Linked DNA regions of Homo sapiens: region 1 is linked to region 2. Evidence: fine-mapped expression QTL. Tissue or cell type: whole blood. Region 2 holds a variant in brackets; the other region holds the start of a gene. All regions are shown on one strand. Distances are from middle to middle.

The links. PIP is the estimated chance that this variant, and not a neighbour inherited with it, causes the effect.
Region 1: ARHGAP22 starts here. The variant in region 2 is fine-mapped to the expression of ARHGAP22 in whole blood (INTERVAL, PIP above 0.99).

The regions. Positions count from the first base shown.
Region 1 is chr10:48,603,399-48,606,159 of GRCh38, reverse strand. It overlaps ARHGAP22 (Rho GTPase activating protein 22), which reads left to right and starts at 1,087. Exons shown (of 10, transcript NM_021226.4): 1 at 1,087-1,397. The coding sequence starts at 1,364. RefSeq lists a silencer at 920-1,079 and an enhancer at 936-1,666.
Region 2 is chr10:48,662,813-48,665,573 of GRCh38, reverse strand. No RefSeq gene overlaps it. Among named protein-coding and RNA genes, the nearest start is that of WDFY4, 21 kb to the left of the region's middle. The variant A/C (reference allele first, on the strand shown) is at 1,198.

The DNA of each region.
Region 1 (2,761 bases), 59 kb after region 2:
ATCTGAGCAGGGGAGGGCATTGTTCAAATCCCTCTTTACCAGCTACTGAAAGGGTCACACAGTTCTCAGGCCCAAATAGCCAGACCCAAGCTCAGATGCCTAAGAGGATACACGGAGTGATTATCAGGGGCACAGAGGCAGGTCACCGTTCAGCAAGTTCATCGGGGGCTCAAGCCAGGAGCTGTTACCATGCAGTGATGGGAATAGGGTGGAGAGGCTGGCATCACAGAGCAGCAGGAGCTGTAGACACAGCCCTGGGTTCTGGTGCCCGCCCTGCTGCTCGGTACTGTATGACTTTGGGCAGGTGATTCAACCTTGCTGTGCCTTATTTTCCAGATTTGAAACGCTATATATATAGCACCTGCTTCAGGAGTTTGAGAGTTAAATGAGATATTGAATGTAAAGCACCAGCCTCAGTGCCTGACACATAGTAGGTGCCTAATAAATGATAGCTATTGTTATGATTGCATTCCTTGGGTAATTTTTAGCATCTTGAGGCTGGATTCCGCTCCTCACAAAGCCCCAGTATACACCCTTTAAAATTATGCCAGCATCAAACAGAAACATGGCAATTAGCAGAGATTCACTATTCAATTCAGATCTTCCTATGAAGAGCCCTGAGTTAAGTGCTTCCTGCCCTCTTATTCCTGTCACCTTACTAAAGAGGCATAAATAGTATCCCTAACAGGCATCTTCCTGTTGGGAGTCTCCTGAGGAGTTTACATTGCCGGGCTGCTTGCTCCTTCCCAGACACACCTGACTTTCAACACGTAAAACAGTGAGCTCATAAGCGGGTCCCCGTGGATTGGGCTCTGGGGTGGGGGGGGGGTCTCGGCTACCTTCTCACCAAAGCGCTATCCCACCCGGGCTTGGCAGGGAGTGCGGCTCCCAGGCGGCGGCTGAAAGGCGCATTTCTTCCAGCCTCAGCAAAGGATGGCCGGAACCCCAGTACCCTCTCCCGGGCCAGGACCGCGCCCCGCGTCTCTGGCTGGCCCCGCCCCTCTCGGCCCCGCCCCGCCCCCGCGCTCAGCTTGGACAGCCACGCGTGCGCCCAGGCCAGGCGGAGGGACTGCCCCGCCCTGGTCCAGTGATTGATCAGCAGTGATTACTGAGGCTTTAATGGTCCGCTTGGATGGGAATTAATTCTGGGATGGATAAATAATGCATCGAGGTTTATGTAGTCCAAGGCGAGCCGTCCGTCCGGAGCCAGGAGAGGTAGCCGAGGGAGCCTGACGGGTGACGCCAGCGGCCACGGGGCCCCGAACGAGCAGGACATGAGGGGCGACTAGGCGCGAGGACGAGCAAAAGCAAGTGGATGACAGCATGAACGGCCCTGCGGGGCTGGCCGGACGGCTGCAAGAACATGCTGAGCCCAAAGATCAGGCAGGCCAGGAGGGGTAAGTCCAACTTTCTGGGGTTTCTCTGGGCACCGCATGTGCCTCTTGGCAAACGTGCGCGGACACTTGGCCAGCCGTCACGCCATGTGTCACATGGGGCGGGCGTTCTGGGACCATTGCCGCTGAATAGTGAGCATCCTCCTGAGGAAGTGCCCTTCCTCGTGAAACTCCTGGGCTGGGTGGGGACACGACCTGAAGTTGCAAAAGGGCGGTGGCCGGCTTAGTGCCCCAGTGGGTGTGCACACTTCGCCCCACATTCCACATTTTACAGAGGCCCTCGGTCGCTCCAGGTGACCTGGTGGCAACTTTAAGGAAACTTTGCTTCTTTACTAAAAAGGAAATGCCCAAGATTTGCCCTGTGGCCAACACAGAAGCACCCCTTACCAGGGAAGGCCATGCCCTGGCTTCTAGAGACAGCTGGGTGCAAGCGAGGGTCTTCGTTCCCGCTGCTTTGCAGACAGTATTTCCTCAAGCAGGCCAGGGGCAGGCAGGCTTTCCTGCCAGAACACTCAGAAAGCTGCAGGGTCTGGGGGCAGGACGGGTGGATGCGGGAGCAGACTCAGACCAGCAAGAGATGGGGGTCAGGAGAGTCCAGGACTGGGCTAGCCAGCCTGTGTCCAGCCAGCGACCCAGCACAGTGACCTGAAGACTTGGCCACTGTATGGGGCTAGAGACAGCATCTCCATGGACAACAACTTCTTAGCCACGGAAAGTGTCATTTTGAATGAGAACATCTGTCTTTTACAAAAATAGAATGTGTCTTTTCAGGTGGCCAGTATCTGGGAGGGCTGAGCTCCTTTTGTAAACAATGAAGTGGAGGATGGGTCTTTGGAGGTGGATGGAGCATTTGCCTGGGAGCTTGGAAACAGTTTGTGTCTCACCAGGTGTTTGCAGCGGGGGGCCTCCAGCCTCCTGTGGATTCACAGGGAACACACCCATCTTATTAGCACACTGCAAGCACTTGGATGATTTTCCTGGATGGGACCAGCCTTCCAGTGTGTTCCACAGACGTCAGGACCCCTCTGTGGGGTGCTTTCGCATGGGCTGAACCCTGTGTACCCCAATGGGCAAAGGAGGAACTTGCATGGCTCTGCTGAGGAGGGGGCAAGTCTAGTGATGACCCAAGGGATAGGACAAGCCAGATACCTCTGCGAGAGCTTAGTTCCACCCTCCCACTCCTGTGTAATGAGCTGGCCACTGGCCACATGTGGCTACTAAGCACTTGGCATGTCACTAGTCCAAATTGAGAAAAAGACACACCAAATTTTGATGATTTAGTACAAAAAAAGAATGTACAATATCTCATTAATAATTATTTTACTGAAATGACAGTATTTTGGATATATTGGGTTAAATAAAATCTA
Region 2 (2,761 bases):
AACCTAGCTGGGAAGGTGACCGCATCCACCTTTAAACACGGGGCTTGCAACTTAGCTCACACCCAACCAATCAGAGAGCTCACTAAAATGCTAATTAGGCAAAAACAGGAGGTAAAGAAATAGCCAATCATCTATTGCCTGAGAGCACAGTGGGAGGGACAAGGATTGCAATATAAACCCAGGCATTCGAGCCAGCAACGGCAACCGCCTTTGGGTCCCTTCCCTTTGTATGGGAGCTCTGTTTTCACTCTATTTCACTCTATTAAATCTTGCAACTGAAAAAAAAAAAAAAACTGCCCCCAGTAGTTGTTGCTGGGTGGTGGCACTGGGGGAGATTTCAGTCCTTGATCCTGCCTTTGTGGGATAGGATTCTCCCTCCCTCCTAGTCCTCTACAGTCCCCTACACTTTTCCTATTGCTCATCCATTCTGCAAATTGCTCTGTTATAATTTCCTCCTTGCCATTTTGATTAGTGAGCTCTTGAGTCAGGGAATTTTTCTTGTTTATCTCCATAGCCATAGCCCCTAGTACAGACCTAAGAAATAGTAGGTGCTCAATCAAACATTTAACAGTCAAGTTTTCCCAAGCTTTATTGAGGAGTGTTTCAGATATCTGCTGCTACATAACAAAATATGGTGGTTTGAAATAACAACTACTTATTATTTCTCACAATTCTGTGGGACAGGAAGCAGGCAGGGCTTGGCTGGGGGGTTCTTCTGCTCCACACAGCATGGACTGAGAGCCACCTGGCTGCATTCACTAGGGGGCTGGGAGCTCGAATATCCAAGGGAAGCTTTATTCACAAGACTGGTGCCTCAGTGCTCTTCCTTTGCAGACTCTCTTTCCCTCCATGCCCTCTCATCATTCGTTAGACAGTGCAAATCTTATAAAATATGACAGCTTGGCTTCCAGAGAGAAAGACAGTGAAGCTTCCAGGCTTCTTAGGGTCTACATGCAGAACTACTGTAGCATCATTTCCACCTCTTGGCAGGAGGAAGGGCATGAGCACACTGACAGGGAAGGGATTTGGAGGGCCATCTCTAAAGAAACTAATGCTTGATAAATTTTTTAAAAAACAAGAAGAAAGCATTTTCCAAAAGTAACACTAGGATAAGCTGGTCTGGAAGCAGCATTGGTTGAAGTCTTTGCCCTTGCATTTCAGAGTGGCACGGAGTCCAAGGCATAACTGCAGTAGCAG[A/C]TCCCTGGCCCAGGAGCAGCAAACCCAGAAGTCTCCCTGCAGCGAGGTTGTGCTCTACTTCACAGGGAGAGACCACAGAGCTGGGCTCCCAGTGGACCCACAGAGAATCCTGTGCAGCTCATTTCCCCAAAAGCTTCTGAGCCCCAGCATCTGTGTGCTATTCCTGAGTGGAAAGACCAAGGTGAGCAAGGCAGCCTCCATATGCTCTGACAGCTCAGCCTGCTGGAGGGTAAGGTGTAAACCTGGTGACACATGGCCATGGAGTCAGCAGTGACTTCATACCCACATAAGAACTAAGATGCTACCTGTCCAGGAAACCAAGGAGGGCCCTATCTTGGACTCTACACTTTGAGGGCCCATGAGAACCCAAACAGCACACATCTATTCATGGATGTATGGAATGGGCACCTCTGTTCCTCGAGAGGTGTGCCCAGTGCTGCCCTGCATGACCCATGGCCCTGACCCTGCACACCTGCTCACTGGACTGGCATTGTCCAGCACCTCATCTCTTGCCCTATGTATGTCCTCAAAAGAAAATGTGATTGGATCCAAATGTTATGGATTTGGCTTGCAGGATCAGCTTAGGTTTATGGGTTGTGCCATTGCCAGCAGGAACATTGCTTCCATGTCTAGGAGGAATTGAACGTGGAAGCAATAGGAAAAAAATCTAAACTTCCAGAGGCTTCCTCTCAGATCACCTAAATGTAGTAGGTTCTCCATAAGAAATCTCATCTCTGAATAGTGCCAGACATGTATTTTTTTTTCTGCTCTTTGAGTTCAAATTCATAGTTTCATAGGTACTTATATATCATTGCAAAATTCACAATGGTTCTTCATTGCAGCCTGGAAATATTTCATGCTATTAAACAGCTCACTCCCTCTTAGATGCATATGTGTTGTTCTGGATGTATAATGTCACTTGCGTGAAGTATGACATAGATTCTTCATAGCACCCACTAGATGCAAAACAAACACCAGAAATGCTAACAGTTTAATTTTTAGATTTATTTTTTATTTTTAAAATCACAATAAGAATTTAATTTTATCAAATAATGTTTTTTAATTTTTTGTATTCTTTAATTATCATATACATTTTGCTTTTTGATTTTTTAGAGAAATCTTTAAAACTGTAGTAATAATAACATGCATTGGCACAGTTTCAACATCCTAACAAGACCTATCTATGTGTACACATGTTAGACTGGTAATGTATATTGTTGCCACTAGTGAGTACCTACTCTTTTGCAGATTCACAGGAAGTTGCAAAAATAATCAAAGAGGTCCCAGATCCCCTTGACTCAGTGTCTCTCAGTGATTCTATCTTACATAACTTAGTACAATATCAAAACCAGGGAACTGGCATTGATGCAATGTCTATCACTCCAGTTGTATTACATGCAGATTTATGTAACCACCAGGGTGCAGAACTATCCTGTGGCTGTAAGCTATCCCTCATGCTGTCCCTTGTAGTCACACCTGCCTTCTGCCCCATTTGTCCCTAACCCCTGGCCACCTCTCATCTGCTCTCCAACTCATTTAGAGAATGTTATATACATGAAATAAT